2 separate regions of the Homo sapiens genome follow, and region 1 is linked to region 2. Evidence: fine-mapped expression QTL. A gene starts in region 2. The other region holds a variant in brackets. All regions are shown on one strand. Distances are from middle to middle. Region 1 overlaps SLC16A2 (solute carrier family 16 member 2). Region 2 holds the start of RLIM (ring finger protein, LIM domain interacting).

Region 1 (9,057 bases), 170 kb after region 2:
CATGGCTCACTGCAGCCTCAATCTCCCAGCTCAAGAGATCTTTCCACCTCAGCCTCCTAAGTAGGTGGAACTACAGGCGTGTGCCACCACACCTGGCTAATTTTTGTATTTTTTTGCAGAGATGGGGTTTCGCCATGTTGCCCAGGCTGGTCTCAAACTACTGGGCTCAACCCTCAGCTTCCCAAAGTCCTAGGATTACACATGTGAGCAACCGCGCCCAGCCTTAAAGCAGAGAATTGACTTAGGTAAGTGGGAGTGGGAAAGCCAGGCTTCCCAGGGAAGGACAGGACCAATGTGTGAGAAATTTATCCTGCCCAGTTGCACCTGGAGCACAGATGAGGCAGACCATGCTTTGGGAATTCTAGACTTGGACAGAGGATCAGTGAGAGTGTGGCTCTACCCTGGAGCTCAGAAATCTGATTGGTCCCAGGGGAAGAGGAGGGGGCAAAAAAATCTTGGCACCCGCAACTAGCATCAGAGTCTGTGGACAGGGCAAGGAAGTGGGAGAGTCATTTGCCAGGTGTCTAGAGGCAAAGTGAAGCTTGGAGGCTTCCTGTGGGATTTCTTAGGCAGAGGGGCATGGTTAGCAGTCAAAGGAAAAGCTAAAAATCTGACCTTGGTTGCTAAGAACAATGATGTCAGAAAACAAACCCAAACACAAAGCACCTTTAAAGCAGCCTTGCAAATAAGGCCTGAGAAGTCAGCAGTGGATCCTGGCTTTGCCCAGCATGCCTGGAGTGAGAGGCATGAACCACTTGGCCCCTCTTGCCCACAATGCCTTCCCCAAAACAAGCTCATGTTCTCCCACTCCTGGCCCTCATTTCATTTCAATACAAAGTTATCAAGCACTGACTATGTATAGTGCATTGTGTTAGGTGCTAGAATCACTATGTCTCTCCTTATGAAGCATTATACTCAATTGTTAGCTCTAACAGTAAGAGCTAACAATTGAGTATAATGCTTCATAAGGAGAGATATAGTGGTTTATAATCAAGGTAGATCTGTCATGGTCTACCTTGATTCAAGTATGGCATGAGTGTATGTATGTCTGCTCATACAGACATAAGACATACAGACATGAGACATCGTTCTCTATCTCCCCTTGACCCTCTCCTATCATAGCATCTAGCAAAATGTGCTATATATAGTGAAATGAAATAAGTCTTCTTGCAGGAACACAAGCCGAATAGAGAAGGAGGCAGAAAGGTAGTGCACAGTCAGTATCTTTTTGATCCATTGCTTAATTTTTATTAGGCTTGCTGCCTGGTTTTATTTGATTCGTGGAGACTGATGGTTATCTTAATAGCGAATCCAGATCCCTTGCCTCTCATATGCTTCCAGAAAAACTTCCTACCCACCTCAATGCATGCACACATGTGCAAGCACACACACACACACGCAACTTAGAACTTGCCACTTATTATTTATGTGCCCTTTACTTCACTTCTCTGCGTCTCAATTTCCTTATCTGCAATAATGGGCTAATAATAATATCCAGAGACAAGCTGCAACTTCCCAAATAGATCTCTCTTATGGTTTGCATTGATTTGAGGTTGTCACCGCTCCTGTGGGTGTGATGACAAGGTCTTTCTGTGCAGAAAAGCCCAGCTACATTTGTCCATGGAAGAGGAAAGAGGACCCTGTGAGAATCCTGTGTGATTCCCTGTCATGGACATAGACATTACAGAAGCAGATGATCACCTCGTCTTTACAGCAAACAGTGGAGGTGGACAGGATATAAGCTAGGCTGGGCAAATTTGCATTATTGTGTATATGGAAGGGCAGTCAGGCAGCAGGGAATATTAACAATAACAACTCCTCCTTTTTGAACAGTACTTTAGGGCTCGCCAAGTATTTCCAGGTCATTCTCTCATTTGATCTTCAAAACAAGCAACAGAAATCTCCTAGATGTTTTTTCCATATATTTTTCCCATTTAACCCTGTGTCAAACTTTAAAAAACAGGCTGGTCTTTACAAATGAGGGAACTGAGGTTCAGGGCAGTAAAGCACCTTTCCCAAAGTCAGGGAGGGAGGGAGATAGTGGTAAAATTTGCAGATAGTGGTAGAACCCAAGCTTTCGGATTCCTTGTGGCATGCTGCTTCCCCTGTAACAAATAACAAGGGTAAATGAGTCAGGGGCAGAATATGGTGCCAGGACAGCCAGGATTGAAGAGGGAGGGAGATATTGGTAAAATTTGCAGATAGTGGTAGAACCCAAGCTTTCGGATTCCTTGTGGCATGCTCCTTCCCCTGTAACAAATAACAAGGGTAGAGGAGTCAGGGGCAGGATATGGTGCCAGGACAGCCAGGATTGAAGAGGGAGGCAGTATGGAGAGGGAATACAGAGAGCATGAGGATAAGAGAAGATGAAGAATGAGTGGTTTTTGTATCTGAACCACAGCCCCTTCCCCATATTAATTTTCTAAGTGCTACTCAGGGGTCTCCCAGGGAAACTCCTTTCCCTCAGATGTTGCCTCCACAAGCAACTTAGCTTATTCCAGACCCTGAGCAGTGCTCTGCTGGAGCCAGCCTAATACCACCACCTCCTCCTGCCCCTGCCCCCAGACACACATGCACACACATACACACCTGGTACCAGACTGTGGATAATATTACTCTGTGAGCCAAACTGCCTTCCTCTTCTGCTCAAGATGCAGAAGGGGATAGAAAATCCATCAGCAGCTTCCAAGAGGAAAAGGTATGATGGGGCGGGCAGGGAAGGAAATATTCATCTCAGCCCACCCAGGAAGGCTGTGGACAATGCAGAATCAAGGTTAGCCTCTGTCTGCAACTCCTCCTAGCTGTATCATGCACTCAGAGAAGGACGCACACAAACACAGGCACAATCACACAAGGAATGGAGTGGCTTCCCTGAGCCCATTTTGCAGGAATTTCTTATTTGCCAATTTAAAGAGATATTTCCTGTTTTTCTCAGGAGGCGGAGAGTTACAGGGCCCAGGCCTAGAACCCAGAGCACCTTCTGGATACTGTTACAGAAAGTACCTCACCTGAGACCTGGAGCCAGGAGTGAGGCAGCTGAGTCAGAGCCCCGGGCCAACTCAGCCCGAGCTGACTGGGGGTCACTCACCCACTCTTTTTCTGCACCACACATGGAGAGAGCCTAGTGGGGAGGAGAGAATGGCAGATTACAGCCAAGGGACCCGAGGCTGCTCGAGTTCATGGGGAAGGATTACCATAGAGTTGCTGACCTCTGGAATGTCAAAGCTGGAAGGGGCCTTAGGAATCATCTAGATATGGAATCAGATATCCACAGAGGAGCAGGGAAGAGATGACCCTCGGCTTGAGAGTCACAGGTCTGTAGTTGAATCCTGGATCTACTGTGAATACTAGCACTTGACCTTGGATGAGTCACTTAACATTTCTGTTCCTCAATACTCTAATGTGTGAAAAAAAAGGGAGGAATATCCCCTCATAAAGCTATTTTGAGGCCTAAGTGAGATAACCCATGGAAACATTTTAGCATAATGTCTAGCATGCAGTAGGTTCTCAATAATTTCTTTTTGTCAAGCAGAGTTAAGACTGAATTCTCACTTCCCCACTCCTAGCTGTTTTACTTTGAGCAAGCCACTTCACCTCTTGGAGTGTCATTTTTTTTGGACGAAGTCTCCCTCTATTGCCCAGGATGGAGTGCAGTGGCACAATCTCGGCTCACTGCAACCTCCGCCTCCTGGGTTCAAGTGATTCTCCTGCCTCAGCCTCCCGAATAGCTGGGACTACATGCGTGTGCCACCAGGCCTGGCTAATTTTTTTGTATTTTTAGTAGAGATGGGCTTTCACCATATTGGCCAGGCTGGTCTTAAATTCCCGACCTCATGATCCACCCGCCTTGGCCTCCCAAAGTGCTGGGATTACAGGCGTGAGCCACTGCGCCTGGACCTCTTGGAGGGTCTTAATGGGACTAATCCTACTTCACAGGGCTATTGTAAGGATTCAATGAAATAATTAATACTTGTAAAAGTCTAACATCATGTTAGGTACATAGTAAATGCTCAATAAATATTGGCTGAACCTGAACTGGTTTATCACTAGGACATGAGACCTGGACTGTTTTCTCAGAGCTATGCTGCAGCATCCCACACTCTTTTGTCTCATCTTTTGTGTGACTGGTCAGACAAATGGGTACAGCCCAAACAGAGGTTCAAGCAAGATGAATTTGTTCAGATGAGAAAAGAACAGTGGTTTTGGATTTTAGCTTCATTAGCAATGGGCTACCCTAACTTGCATGACCAATTCCTCGGCCAACGCTAATGAGACTAATGGCTGACACCCACCCTTCTCCTGGGGGCACAAATTCCCATTTCTTTTTTTTTTTTTTTTTTTTTGAGACGGAGTTTCAGTCTTGTTGCTCAGGCTGGAGTGCAATGGCGTGATCTCGGCTCACGGCAACCTCTGCCTCCTGGGTTCAAGCGATTCTCCTGCCTCAGCCTCCCGAGTAGCTGGGATTACAGGAATGCGCCACCACGTCTGGCTAATTTTGTGTTTCTAGTAGAGACGGGGTTCCTCCATGTTGGTCAGGCTGGTCTTCAACTCCCAACCTCAGGTGATCCACCCGCCTCGGCCTCCCAAAGTGCTGAGATTACAGGCATAAGCCATGGCACCCGGCTGCAAATTCCCATTTCAACAGCCAGTCCTGACACTCCTGGGGCATCTCTAGCCATTTCCCCTGCCCCAGAACCTGAAGTGATAAGGGCAGGTACAGGAAGGTCAGAGACTGGGGGTGAGGGGGAGGCTTTCCTGTCTCTTATTGCCCAGTCTGGGGACACTTTCAGCTTATGTCTGGCCTACATCCTGTGAAGGCCTCTAGTGGATCTCTAATAGAGATCAAGGTTTGTCTCCAAGGCAAACCACATCTCTAGGTGGTGGGGTTGGAGAGGTGGGAAGTTGAACATATTCAAAGCCCTGGAAAGTTTCCACTGTTGGACATGGTCCTTCAGGGAGACAGGTCTGGTGGATCAGCCATTTGTCAAATCTCCTTCTGCTCAAGTCTAGGCCTACAGACACCTCAAGCTTACTCTTAGGCAGCTCCCTCAACCCACCTTGACAAGCACCCATTGTTTGCAGAAACCTTAAATAAAT[A/G]CTGGGCTTTTATTCCAATGCATGGATTAGCAGCTGGTTCCCAATCAGGATTATTGTGACTGCTGCTAGTATACTCTCAATCACTGCCAAGCAAATTGTAAAAGTGTGTAGGTCTCTGCCTGGTGCGGTGGCTCATGCCTGTATTCCCAGCACTTTGGGAGGCCAAGGCAGGTGGATTACCTTGAGGTCAGGAGTTCGAGACCAGCCTGGCCAACATGGTGAAACCCCGTCTCTACTAAAAATACAAAAATTAGCTGGGCATGGTGGTGGACGCCTGTAATCCCAGCTATTCGGGAGGCTGAGGCAGGAGAATGGCGTGAACCGGGGAGGCGGAGCTTGCCGTGAGCCGAGATCGTGTCACTGCACTCTAGCCTGGGCGACAGAGACAGACTCCGTCTAAAAAAAAAAAAATCCAGGAGGCGGAGCTTGCAGTGAGCCGAGATGGCGCCACTGCACTCCAGCCTGGGCGACAGAGACAGACTCCCTCTCACAAAAAACAAAGTGTGTAGGTCTCGTTACACATGCCTTTTTCCTCACGTGTAAAATAAAGTGGTCGTCTATGTGATTGCTCCTTGAAAGTTAAGGAGTTCACAACTCAGTGAACCAGAGGTCAGACCTGACTCTACCCTATCCATGCTCATGCATGCGCGTGCACACACACACACACACACACCCTCATTTATTCTTACCACATCCGTGTTCACGTCCACACACATCCACACCTACATGCATGCCCATAGTTACACACAGTTGGATATACTTAAAATTCCACTCACACACATACATACTTTCCACAGCTTTGACACAAACACATACACACAATACACAAAACCACACACCACAATTGACTCTCTCTCTCTTCTCTTCTGAAGTTGACCAGGAAATAAACACGCTTGGCTAAGAGCTCCATTACATATTTATGTACAGCAGCAAAAAAAAAAAAAAAAAAAAAGGAATTTATATTCAGAGTAAACAATCTCCAGTCCCAAGGCTGAAAAGGCTGAATAATCTCCCTGCCCTACTCTCTACTGCCCAAACCAACACACACACACATACACACACACAAACAAAACAGAACACATACACACCTTTTTTAAAGACATCTTGTGAGGAGCCCTTATAGTTTGCCCTTTCCCGGCAAGCTGGAGCGATTTGTTCTAAACTTACAATGAACACACATCTTGGTTTTCCTGGGACAATTCTAGTTTATGCCTGTGGTTCCAACAAAAATGTTAATAGAGTTCTCTTTCACCCTCAAAAGTGTCCCAATTTGGACAATAAATGATATGATAACCCTACTCCCTCTCTAAAACCCTCCTCACCCTGGTCATGGCTGGGCCACCTAAGATGAGCCCATTACATAAAGCCCAGGCCTCTCTCTTCCTGAGAAACCATCTTGCTCTCCTCTAACCATGCTTAACTCTTCAACTCTATCACTAGGAATTCTTTTTTGTTCCAACCTTGCAAATAAGCAAAACAATTTTCTAGCCTACATTCTAGTGATTGAGGGGAGGCTGAAGGACTCTGCCATTTGATTTGAGAAGTTATCCAGCCACCAAAATTCTAGTTGGCCTCAAAGTGGGCGTAACTTTTCTCCTTTTTGTCTCACCTCATTTAATTCCCCAACTATGTTCCTCTTGCTTATAAACCTCAATACCCTCACTTTTCCCTCTTCTTTCCCTCTTCCTCCTCCCTGTCTCTCCAAAACCTTAGGCTCTAATGACCCCAGGACCTCTTTGAAGCAAATATACTTCATGGTACCACCCCCCACTCCCCCACCACACATACCCTAGGCTTAGAGATCCTTAGAATAAAAAGCAGTGGCAAAGAGAGGGCAGGAAGGGAAAAGAGAGAGAGAGAAAGCGCAAGAGTGAGGCTGGGTGTGGTGGGTGACACCTGTAATCCCAACACTTTGGGAGGTTGAGGCAGGAGGATCACTTGAGCCTAAGAGTTTGAGACCAGTGAGACCTCATCTCTACAAAAAAAAAAAAAAAAAATTAGCCGGGCCTGGTGGTGCATGTCTGTAGTCCCAGCTACACAAGGAGGCTGAGGTGGAAGAATCACCTGAGCCCAGGTGATCAAGGCTGCAGTGAACCATGATCACACCTCTGCACTCCAGCCTGGGCAACAGAGTGAGGCCCTGTCTCAAAAAAAAAAGAAAGAAAGGAAGAAAGGAAGGAAGGAAGGAAGGGAGGGAGGAAGGAAGGGAGAGAGAAAGAGAGAAGAAAGAAAGAAAGAAAGAGAGAGAGAGAGAAAGGAAGGAAGGAAGAAAGAAAGAAAGAAAGAAAAAGAAAGAAAGAAAGAAAGAAAGAAAGAGTTGAGCAAGCCAGAGAGAGAGAGAGAATGAGAGGGAGAGAGAGAGTTTGATTCAACTTCAACTTCATTTAGGCTCTGTGACTAATTTTCATTAGGCACGCTGCCCAATTTCTTTTAGCTTTGGGGCATATGGGCCAGTGACTATTTTTGTGGCTGGATTAACTACGTTTTGAAAAAAGTCTGAAAATGCTGTCAGCTCTTTGCAAACATGGCTATAAATATGCTGTGCAGGCTAGAGTCGTAGTGCTATTCAAAGAGCAACTGGACAAGGATCCATGTTCTCCAGACATGTGTATGTCACATACTGCAGCTTGAATTTTTGCAGCAGCTGTGCTACTCTGCAAACAAGGTGGAGACAGAGAAGAAGCCTCAGCAAGGGCAAAAGGGACATTATCAGTATCAAGTGGAGGAATTTACAAACAGGGCCTTTGTCAGACCCCCGGAAAACTGGATTATCTAGGCAGAAACTGAAGGGTATGGTATGCTCACCTGTACAGCTATGAGGCTATAGATGTACACACATATGCATGCACACACTTACAGAGATACATATACATTTGCTTGTGTGGGTGTACGTGTGTGAGAGAAGGAGAAAGTATATCCATGTGGATAAATGTGTATGTGTATGCACTTTTAATTGTCTGTGTCATGAGTTCAGGCTTAAGATCAGATGTATGTGTAGTTTTGTACATATAAGTGGTTGCTTATACACGTGTGCATCATGGGTGGTATATCAATCTGGCTATACGTGCATAAGCACATGTGCAAGTCTATAGATAAACTTATGTATGTGGTAATCATGATGATAATGCAAAGCTGTTTTCAAAGGGCTTTCACATCCATCTTTTCATTTGAACCTTATCGTAAGACTGTGAGGTAGGGATTATGATGCTCCCACTGCCCCTTTTTTACAGATAGGGAGTGAAGCTCAGACTTGGTCAAGATTGCAGATCAGGTAAATGGCAAATCCAGGACTCTAACACTGGTCTGTCTGTTATAAGATCCTGTGCCTTACCCTATACTACAAAGCATGTGGAAAAGTGAGGCAAAGGAGAGTTGAACTTTGGGGTCTTCTTTGTGACTTCCCACTCCAAGGCTATCTTTTCCTTTAGTGCTAAAAACAGATTCCATTTTTAAAAAGAGAGCCTCAAGGCAAATGTTAGTCTCTGTTGAGCTATGGCCTGGAAAGTAGCCTTTAGGTTGGGTGGTCTTACGTGGAGATAATAAGCAGATCCACTCATGGGACACAGATGAGCCATTGCCTTCTTGAGCAAGTGATATGCTGGAGCCCATAGGTGTGTGATGAGGGTGGGGGTCCTGTGATTAGGAGCTGGAACAATAGGTTTTTTACCTCCCTATTCTCTCTTCTTGCTGCCTGTGGATCTATCTGTCTTCTCTTCCTAAAAGCTGCAGTTTCTCAACATCTGGTCTGACCGGTTTCACCTGAGCTTTCCATGTTTGAGATATTCTGTGAGGAAGGCAGCAAATAAACCTGTCTGGAGTCCTGCTGACCTCCGTTATCCAGGCCACCAGGTCCCTGCAGCTGTTTGGCCAGATCTAAGGAAACCTTGCTTTTGGCTAGTTTTTCCATAGGCAAAATATCTAGGGTAAGGCAAAAAACACTGGCTCTTGGAACATAAAACT
Region 2 (9,057 bases):
GCACATTGTAAAATGTTGAAGACAATACTGAAAGGGGTAAAGAACATAAAAATGGTCCCTGAGCGGTGGCTTATGCCTGTAATCCCAGCACTTTGGGAGGCCGAAGCAGGTGGATCACCTGAGGTCAGGAGTTCAAGACCAGCCTGGCCAACATGGTGAAACCCCCATCTCTACTAAAAATACAAAAATTAGTCGGGCATGGTGGCGGGCGCCTGTAATCCCAGCTACTCAGGAGGCTGAGGCATGAGAATCGCTTGAACCCGGGAGGCAGAGGTTGCAGTGAGTCGAGATCATGCCACTGCCCTCCAGCCTGGGTGACAGAGTGAGACTCCATCTCAAAAAAAAAAAAAAAAAGAACATAAAAGTGACTAAAAATGTATGCTCATCTAGGCTTTTTTCTAGGCATATTTATACATATCTTTTAAATAAAAATGGAGTCACACAAGCTGTATTGTAAATCGCTTTTTTCATTAAAAACGTAACCTGAGGCCGGACACGGTGGCTCATGCCTGGAATCCCAGCACTTTGGGAGGCAGAGGTGGGTGGATCACTCGAGGTCAAAAGCTGGAGACCAGCCAGGCCAACATGGTGAAACCTCGTCTCTACTCAAAATACAAAAATTAGCTGGGCGTGGTGGCACGAGCCTGTAGTCCCAGCTACTCAGGAGGCTGAGGCAGGAGAATCGCTTGAAACCAGGAGGTGGAGGTTGCAGTTAGCCGAGATTGTGCCACTGCACTCCAGCCTGGGTGACAGAGTGAGACTCCGTCTCAAAAAAAAAAAAAAAAAAAGTAACCTGAACGTATTTCCAGCTCTAGGTACTTATTTTTAATGCTACATGGTAGTCTATTATGTGGTTATACTATAACTAATTGTTGTTGGATGGTTATTTTTTCTGATTTGTCAATATTTCGATGTTATAAACCACACTGTAATTAGCATCTTTGCACATTCATTACATACATATTTGCAAATTTGTCCACTTCTTTCCTTAAAATAAATTTCTGTACCTGGACATGTTTGTCAAATACTATGAATATGAGTCTTTTGAAACACATTACCAAATTGCCTTAAGAAAACTGGGAGTGGTGGCTCATGCCTGTAATCCCAGCACTTTGGGAGGCTGAGGTGGGCGGATCACAAGGTCAAGAGATCGAGACCATCCTATCCAACATGGCGAAAATCCGTCTCTAATAAAACTACAAAAATTAGCTGGGTGTGGTGGCGCACGCCTGTAATCCCAGCTACTCGGGGGGCTGAGGCAGGAGAATTGCTTGCACCCAGGAGGTGGAGGTTGCGGTGAGCCGACATTGCGCCACTGCACTCCAGCCTGGTGACAGAGTGAGACTCTGTCTCAAAAAAAAAAAAAAAAAGAAAACTGATATCAATTTGTCCCACTGGCAATACAAATGTGCCCATTTCATAGGATCTTCATCAACAATTAATATTATCGATTTTTTATCCTTGACATTCTAACAGGCAAAAAAAGGAACTTTTTAAAAAATTTTTTAGTTCATAAAATTTTTCTGTTTTGTTTTTTTGAGACAGAGTTTCACTCTTGTTGCCCAGGCTGGAGTGCAATGTCGCAATCTCGGCTCACTGCAACCTCTGCCTCCCGGTTCAAGCGATTCTCCTGCCTCAGCCTCCCGAGTAGCTGGGATTATAGGTGCCCACCACCACGCCCAACTAATTTTTTTTCTGAAGTTTTAGTAGATACGGGGTTTCACCATGTTGGCCAGGCTGGTCTCAAACTCCTGACCTCAGGCAATCCACCCGCCTCAGCCTCCCAAAGTGCTGGGATTACAGGCGTGAGCCACCGAACCCAGCTATTGTTTTTTAATTATTATGGATACATAATAGTTGTACCTCATTGTTTTTATTTTTGATTAATTACTAGTGAGGCTGAATATATTTTCAAGTACAAGGTTATTTACTAACAAGAAAAAAAGAATATATTGTCATATGCTTATCAGCCACGTGTTTTATCCTTTTATGAATTATCCATTCATGTTCCTTGCACATTTTGAAATGGAGGTATTTATCTCTTTTTTTTTTTTTTTTTTTTTTGAGATGCAGTCTTGCTGTTACCCAGGCTGGAGTGCAGTGGCATGATCTCGGCTCACTCCAACCTCTGCCTCCCGGGTTCAATCAATTCCTTTTCCTCAGCCTCCCAAGTAGCTGGGACTACAGGAGTGAGTACGCCACCACGCCCAGCTAATTTTTGTATTTTTTTTAGTAGAGACGGGGTTTCACCATATTGGCCAGGCTGGTCTTGATCTCCTGACCTTGTGATCCGCCTGCCTTGGCCTCCCAAAGTGCTGGGATTACAGGTGTGAGCCCCTGCGCCCGGCCGGTATTTATCTTTTTAAAAATCAATGTTTAACAACTCTTTATAGGCTGATATTAGCCATATGTGTTTATCACATATGTAACATTTTTGCTAGTGTTTCGTCTTTTTATTAAGTAAAGATATTACCCCTTGGCTCTAATATGTCATTATGAAATGATTTTTTTCAATTTATCATTTGTCTTTTAACTTTACCAACCTTGTATTTTGACATTTAGAAGGTTTACTTTTATTTATGAAGTTGTACTTATTAGTCTTTCCCATTATGGATTTTGTGTTGTATTTCAAAAGTGCTTCTGCATCCCCAAGGCTATAGAAATATTAACCTAGGCCTGGACAGTGGCTCACGCCTGTAATCCCAACACTTTGGGAGGCCCAGGCAGGCGGATCATGAAGTCAGGAGTTGGAGACCAGGCTGCCCAACATGGTGAAACCTCATCTCTACTAAAAATACAAAAATTAGCCAGGCGTGGTGGTGCATGCCTGCAATCCCAGCTACTGGGGAGGCTGAGGTAGGAGAATCGCTTGAACCCAGGAGACGGAGGTTGCAGTGAGCTGAGATCATGCCACTGGACTCCAGCCTGGGCAACAAAGCAAGACTCCATCAAAAAAAAAAAAGAAAGAAAGAAGGAAGGAAGGAAGGAAGGAAGGAAGGAAGGAAGGAAGGAAGGAAGGAAGAAAGGACAGAAATAGTAACCTGTATTTTCTTCCACTTCTTTTATGATTTTATATTTTAGATTAAGCCACATAAGCCTCAAGAATACGTTAAGGAGTGGCTAATGTTATTGCCATAATCAGAATATCAGGCTTAATGGCAATTGCAGGCTACTGAAGAATTCCTTTTACACGTTCTAGGTAATCGTTCTAGTACATGATTATGTAAAATAAGACAAAAACCTGAGTAGAGACACAGCGCCTAAATCATGTATCCCTCTGCCAAAAATGACAATATCAATGAGTCTTCTAGGGAGTTGGGCAGGTAAGTATGAGGGATATTGTTTTAACTGCTTGGAGTGAAATACTTATATTCCAGGCTGATATAACATCCATCATGGTGAGGGGGTAATTCTCCCAAAGTATTTTGAGGGCTTACTATGTGGTCGCTGGGGACACAACAGTGAACAAAACAGAGAGGTTTACTGCTCAGAAAGGGTGAAGTAAACAAACAAATAAATAACTTACTTTCAGATTAAGTGTTTTACAAGAAAAGTAAGCAGGTAAGGAGATGGGAGAAGTCGTTATTACTTTTTTCTTTTTTTTTTTTTCCTCAGACCTTTTTCCGCCTTCAGGAAGAAGTTATTTTAGGTAGGGTGGTCAGGGAAGGCTTCTCTAGGAAGTTAATAATTGCGAGGCTTGGATGATGAAAGCAAAGATATGAAAGTAAAATATTCCAGCAAAGGTAAAGTAGTTGAAGTAGGAAGAAGTTAGCTTTGTTGGAAAAACCGTAACAAAGCCAGCATAGCTGGCATGCTATTGGAAAACAGAAAAATTGGGAAAAGGAAAAGAATCTAAAAACTTGGGTAAGGTTTTCCTTTAACTGTGACAATGGGAGTGGCATGCTGTGTGGCGAGTTCCCTCAATTCTTTCAGGCATTACTACCTAAGAAAGGCCTTCTTTAACTGCCCTTTTACAAATCCCAACGTTATCAGATTTTCCCACCCTTTTACAATCACCGCCCTTTTTCGAATACTTTAGAGTTAATGCCTCAAAGTTATCAGTCTTTTAAACATCACGAATCCGTTTGTCCCTACAAGGAACTCTTCTGTCCCCCTTCCTTGATTTTTCTCCTTGGCATTTATCACTAACATGATATGTATTTATGTTTGATTTTTTCTAAATTATTGTCCCTGGCCCCTATAAAGACTCAAGAGAACTGGGATTTTGATCTGTTTTCTTTTTTTTTTTTTTTTTTTTTTTGAGACACAGCCTTGCTCTGTCACCCAGGCTAGAGTGCAGTGGCGAGATCCCGGCTCACTGCAATCTTCGCCTCCTGGGTTCAGCTATTCTCCTGCCTCAGCCTCCCGATTAGCAGAGATTACAGGCGCCCGCCACCACGCCCGGCTAATTTTCGTATTTTTAGTAGAGACTGGGTTTCACCATGTTGGCCAGGCTGGTCTCGAACTCCTGACCTCAGGTGATCCGCCCGCTTCGGCTTCCCAAAGTGCTGGGATTACAGGCGTGAGCCACCGAACGTGGCCTGTTTTCTTTCTTAATTTTGGTCTATTTTAATTTCCTAAGCAGCTACAATGGTGCTTGACATGCAGTTGGCACTGTGTAAATACATGTTGAATAAAACGCAGGCTACTTTTTGAACTGGTCTGCACGGATTGTGTGAACTGATGTGATGTCAGGGTAGACTAATATCACATTTCTCTCTCTCTGAAAATGTCTTCAAGCAGTCAGACCGTGACGTCCTTCAGTTTTCAAAATGGGAAAGCGAAGGTTCCCACAATTCTCAGAACGCAAATTTCTCGCCACAATTCAAAATGGCGGAGGAGGGTGGGGCCTGTCACATGGTGGGCGTCATAACAGCTTTCCTTTTCCAAACCGCCGCCCGCCTTGCCGCGTCGTCTGCCGTCCCCCTCCTCCTCCCGCGGAGCCTTTTCGAGGAATCGACTGGGATTGGCTAATAGGCTGGGAGTGGGGCTGCGGTGCCGGGACGCGGCATCATCACTTCCTGTTGTGGGCAGTCGTTTCCTGTCGCTGCTTGGTAACAATGGGGAAGATAATGGCTGCCTGAGCAACGTCTCCGAGCAGGCGCTGGGCTAGAGGCGGGTCTCAACCAGCTACTCATTGGAGGCGGGCTTGAGAGCGGCGGCCAGGGAGGTGCGGAGCAGCCTCGGCGGCGGCGGCCGAACCAACCGAGTCGGATCCTGACCCTAAAACCTAGTAAGTGAAGACTTGGGAATCCTGTGAGAAATGATGTAGAGCGAGAGGAAGACAGCGGAGCCGCGGCTGCCGCGTTCTCTCAAAATGGCCCGAGTGACGCGTCGTGGCAGAGGCTCAGCGCCGCCTCCGGACCCCAGGCCCGTTGCTGCGGGGGGCTCCGTGGCGTAGTCGCCGCTGCCATTTTAGTTGAGTGGTATAGTCGACAGGCTCTTTGAAGGGGAAGGAGGTGGGTAGTACTTCCTCTCGGTGGCCGCGCGAGCTGCAGCCCAGGCCCTCCGGAGCCTTAGGAAATCGGGGGAGGCAGTTTTTGAGTTTTGGCCTCAGGCGTCAGAATCTTAGAACGTCTCAGGCTTTTTCTTCTCTGTTCTCTGGAGGCTTCCCTGACCTCCCCGCGTTTTCCATGGCGGGCTTGGGTTTGGGAAAAGGGAAGTAAAAAATCAGGCTGCCCCAAGTGAGATGCTGGCAACTCTTGGGCCTTTAGATTTCCAAAACCTCATTTTGAGCCCTTCTGCAGGGTATTACCAATTAGGCGCCCCCTGGGGCCGCGATGACATCTTCCCTGAGGATCTGAGGCAAATGTGGTTTACTCCCTTGCTCGAATAACCCTGGCATATCCTTTGCCAGGTATCACTGGAAGGATCCCCCCGCAAAAGAGAGGGAAAAGCCGTTAGGTGTTTGTTGTGTTCTCCTGGATAAGGGATGGAATTGGGCCAAATTTTCAAGTTAATTTGTGTTTAATCCACCAACAACTCAATCCCTCCCCCATTAAAAAAAAAAAAAAAAGCCTAGGGGGGTCTCTGCTTCTGCAGACGGTACCTGCCACGCATGCCATAGCTTAGTAACTAGTATTAACCGGTTGGGCTTCTGCTTCCTGAATACTCGGTCCCTTTTTCCCTTATGCTGATTAATTTCAAGATGGAGGAGACAGCCACGTTCCTTCCCTAGACAGTTTCACCATACTTATTCCACAGGTTAGTCTGGGAATCTGAGGCCTAGCAGTCTTGTTATTGAGGTCATTTTTTTTTTCATTTTGGGGCAAGAGGAAGCAGTTGTATCAGATTGTCATCTTCCATTTGCAAGACCCCACAATGATTTTTTGCCAGAAGTAAGGAGCCCGCATTTCCTGAATCAGAATTAACCGCAGTGTTTTGGACTGATTGAAAGGGGGAAGAAATAATAAACCTACTGCTACTAATCATTTCTTTCATTCTTCGTGATTATAGACAGAGTAACTACTTATCACCCCATTAAGTACATTGTATCTTCCCTGGAGGACTGGCACAATTATAACCCCTCCCCCCCCATGACTTTTCTAAACTGTAGAAATATAGCTTAGGTAGCTAGAAAGACCAATCCACTTTTTAAAACTTGATTTTAGGACACACTCCACTTACTGAAAAATGTTACAAAGATTTTTTTAGTCCATGATGTTCTGATGAATTTTAATACTTTAGTTCCTACCTTAGGCTAGTGTAATGTGCCAGATAAGTCCTTGAAAGTGACTATCAGAATCTGAAAATAATTACTGGTCTGATAAGGAAAGGCTTATTTTAAGCAAGCTTATAATAAAACGTAAATTGTCTCTCAGTCTTAGAAGACATCTTTTATCTAACTCCTGGTCCCCTCTGACCTTCTTGCTCTCCCCAAATGCCCTAATACTAATATTGAATTAGGTTGGGTTATGGTGTGTCTGTATTTTTTTTTTTAGGTTGTGTCTAATTCAAAGAAAATGTGTATCTTTTTAAAGAGGAAGAATAATGGATTCTTTTTTTTTCTAGAGCAGAGTGAAGAAAACTAAAATCCAGTTTATTGTATTTCAATACTATGTCATAACAGTCAGGTAATTTATTTTTTGTTGCGTCTCCTGATGATTTATGTGTAGAATGCATGTTTACAAATATTTATTGTTCTATTTTGCAGGCCCTGTAATTGGATGGGCTCATTGATAGATGTTAGATGGTGTTGGGTATTCTTCATGATAAGAATGGGTACTTTTCACTGGGAATTAAAAGGGTAATGTTTCTGGATACCTGGAACTCACCAGTGCTTTATCTGTGAATTTGACTCTTTAAAATAATGTCTGAAGTTTACCAATACCTGTATAGAACAACAACAACAAAAAATTTGTTGTCTTATATCATTGTTGGAATGGCATGAGTATAAGTAAAATAACATTTAAATGTTCATTGGATAACTAAATGAAATATCAGAATAGCTTACGAGAGTATAATTTTACGTTACTTTGTGTGTGGTGGTTGATTTTTTTCCTTTAAGATTCAAAAATTCATAATTGATACATGATACTTTTAATTGATATTGACTCCTTTCATTATTATTATCATCATCATTAGGGTAACCACATAATTTATTGCCTAACCAAGACACTTTTAAGAACAAAAGGAACATTAATAATTCCTGGACAGCAGGTGCAAACCTTGATTGTCCCCGACAAACTGGGATGGATACTTAGCCTAAATTCATAACCAACTTCTGCTGAAGGCCTGTGGTGCTAGGCCATGTGCTTTATATGCATTATTTTATAATTCTCACAACAGAGCCTCATGAGAATGTTAACTTTTATAGAGGAAACCAAAAACCCAAAGAGGTTAAGTATAATTTGTCCTCAGTTAAATAGCTTTAAGTGGTGGAGCCCTCATTTTATCCCAGGCCTGTCTGACGTTATACTTCTGGGTTTGATTGCTGTCTAATTAGATAGGAAATGCAATGAAAATGAAAGGTTGTAGTAAAAAGTCTGTAGGTTATGTTGCATCAGAAACTTTTGTTAATACTTAAAGGTTATCCAGCAATCCCCCCTTTTCGTCTGTTACGTTCCTGTTTCAGCTATTATGCATGTTTACACATATTTATTGTTCTATTTCACAGGCCCTGTAATTGGATGGGCTCATTGATAGATGTTAAATGGATAGCTCCTTGTATATCATTTGATAAACTTAATTTAAAATCAGAAATGATTTTAAGAAATAGCTTAATAATTAAATGATCTGGAAATACTAGGCTGGTTGGATATCTTTGAGGTTAGTGAACATGTAGTGAGCCTTAATATAGTAGTAGGTCAAATGAGGCATCTGCATTTATGGAATTATATTATATGTACATTAATTTTTCCATGGCCATGGTGGATTAGAAATAGAGCAAATCACCAGCCAGCCTCCTGTTCTCTTCATTTACCATAGAGTGGATGACAAATTAGAGAATAAAAAGTCTTCTGTCAAACCCAAACCAATGAGGGCCTAGAATTTTGTGCCACTGCCTAGAACTGGACAGGTTTTTCTTTAACACAAAGATTTCTAAAACCTATGGCCCATTGATTTCAGAAAGTATCTAGTTTACATAATAAATTGAAGTTCTGATGTCCAATATAAGAAAGTAATAACACTTCTGTATCTATTTTTCTTTCATTTTTTTTTCTCAGCCTCAAACATGAAAGTTTCCCAGATAATCCAGCAATTCATTTCTCTTTTTATCAATTGAGGTATTTTTATTTATTTATTTTTTATTTTTTTATTTTTTTGAGACGGAGTCTCACTCTGTCGCCCAGGCTGGAATGCAGTGGTGCACTCTCGGCTCACTGCAACCTCCACCTCCTGGTTTCAAGCAATTCTCTTACCTCAGCCTCCCAAGTAGCTGGGAGTACAGGCGCTCTCCACCACGCCTGGCTAATTTTTGTATTTTTAGTAAAGATGGGGTTTCACCATATTGGCCAGGCTGGTCTCGAACTCCTGACCTTGTGATCTGCCCACCTTGGCCTCCCAAAGTGCTGGGATTACAGACGTGAGCCACCGCGACTGGCCAATTGAGGTATT

What was found. PIP is the estimated chance that this variant, and not a neighbour inherited with it, causes the effect.
Region 1: its variant is fine-mapped to the expression of RLIM in whole blood (TOPMed, PIP above 0.99).

Annotation. Positions count from the first base shown.
Region 1 is chrX:74,437,515-74,446,571 of GRCh38, reverse strand. The region is part of intron 1 of SLC16A2 (solute carrier family 16 member 2); the gene reads right to left. Among named protein-coding and RNA genes, the nearest start is that of SLC16A2, 21 kb to the right of the region's middle. The variant A/G (reference allele first, on the strand shown) is at 5,098.
Region 2 is chrX:74,610,598-74,619,654 of GRCh38, reverse strand. RLIM (ring finger protein, LIM domain interacting) reads left to right here and starts at 5,031. Exons shown (of 4, transcript NM_016120.4): 1 at 5,031-5,233. RefSeq lists an enhancer at 5,107-5,426.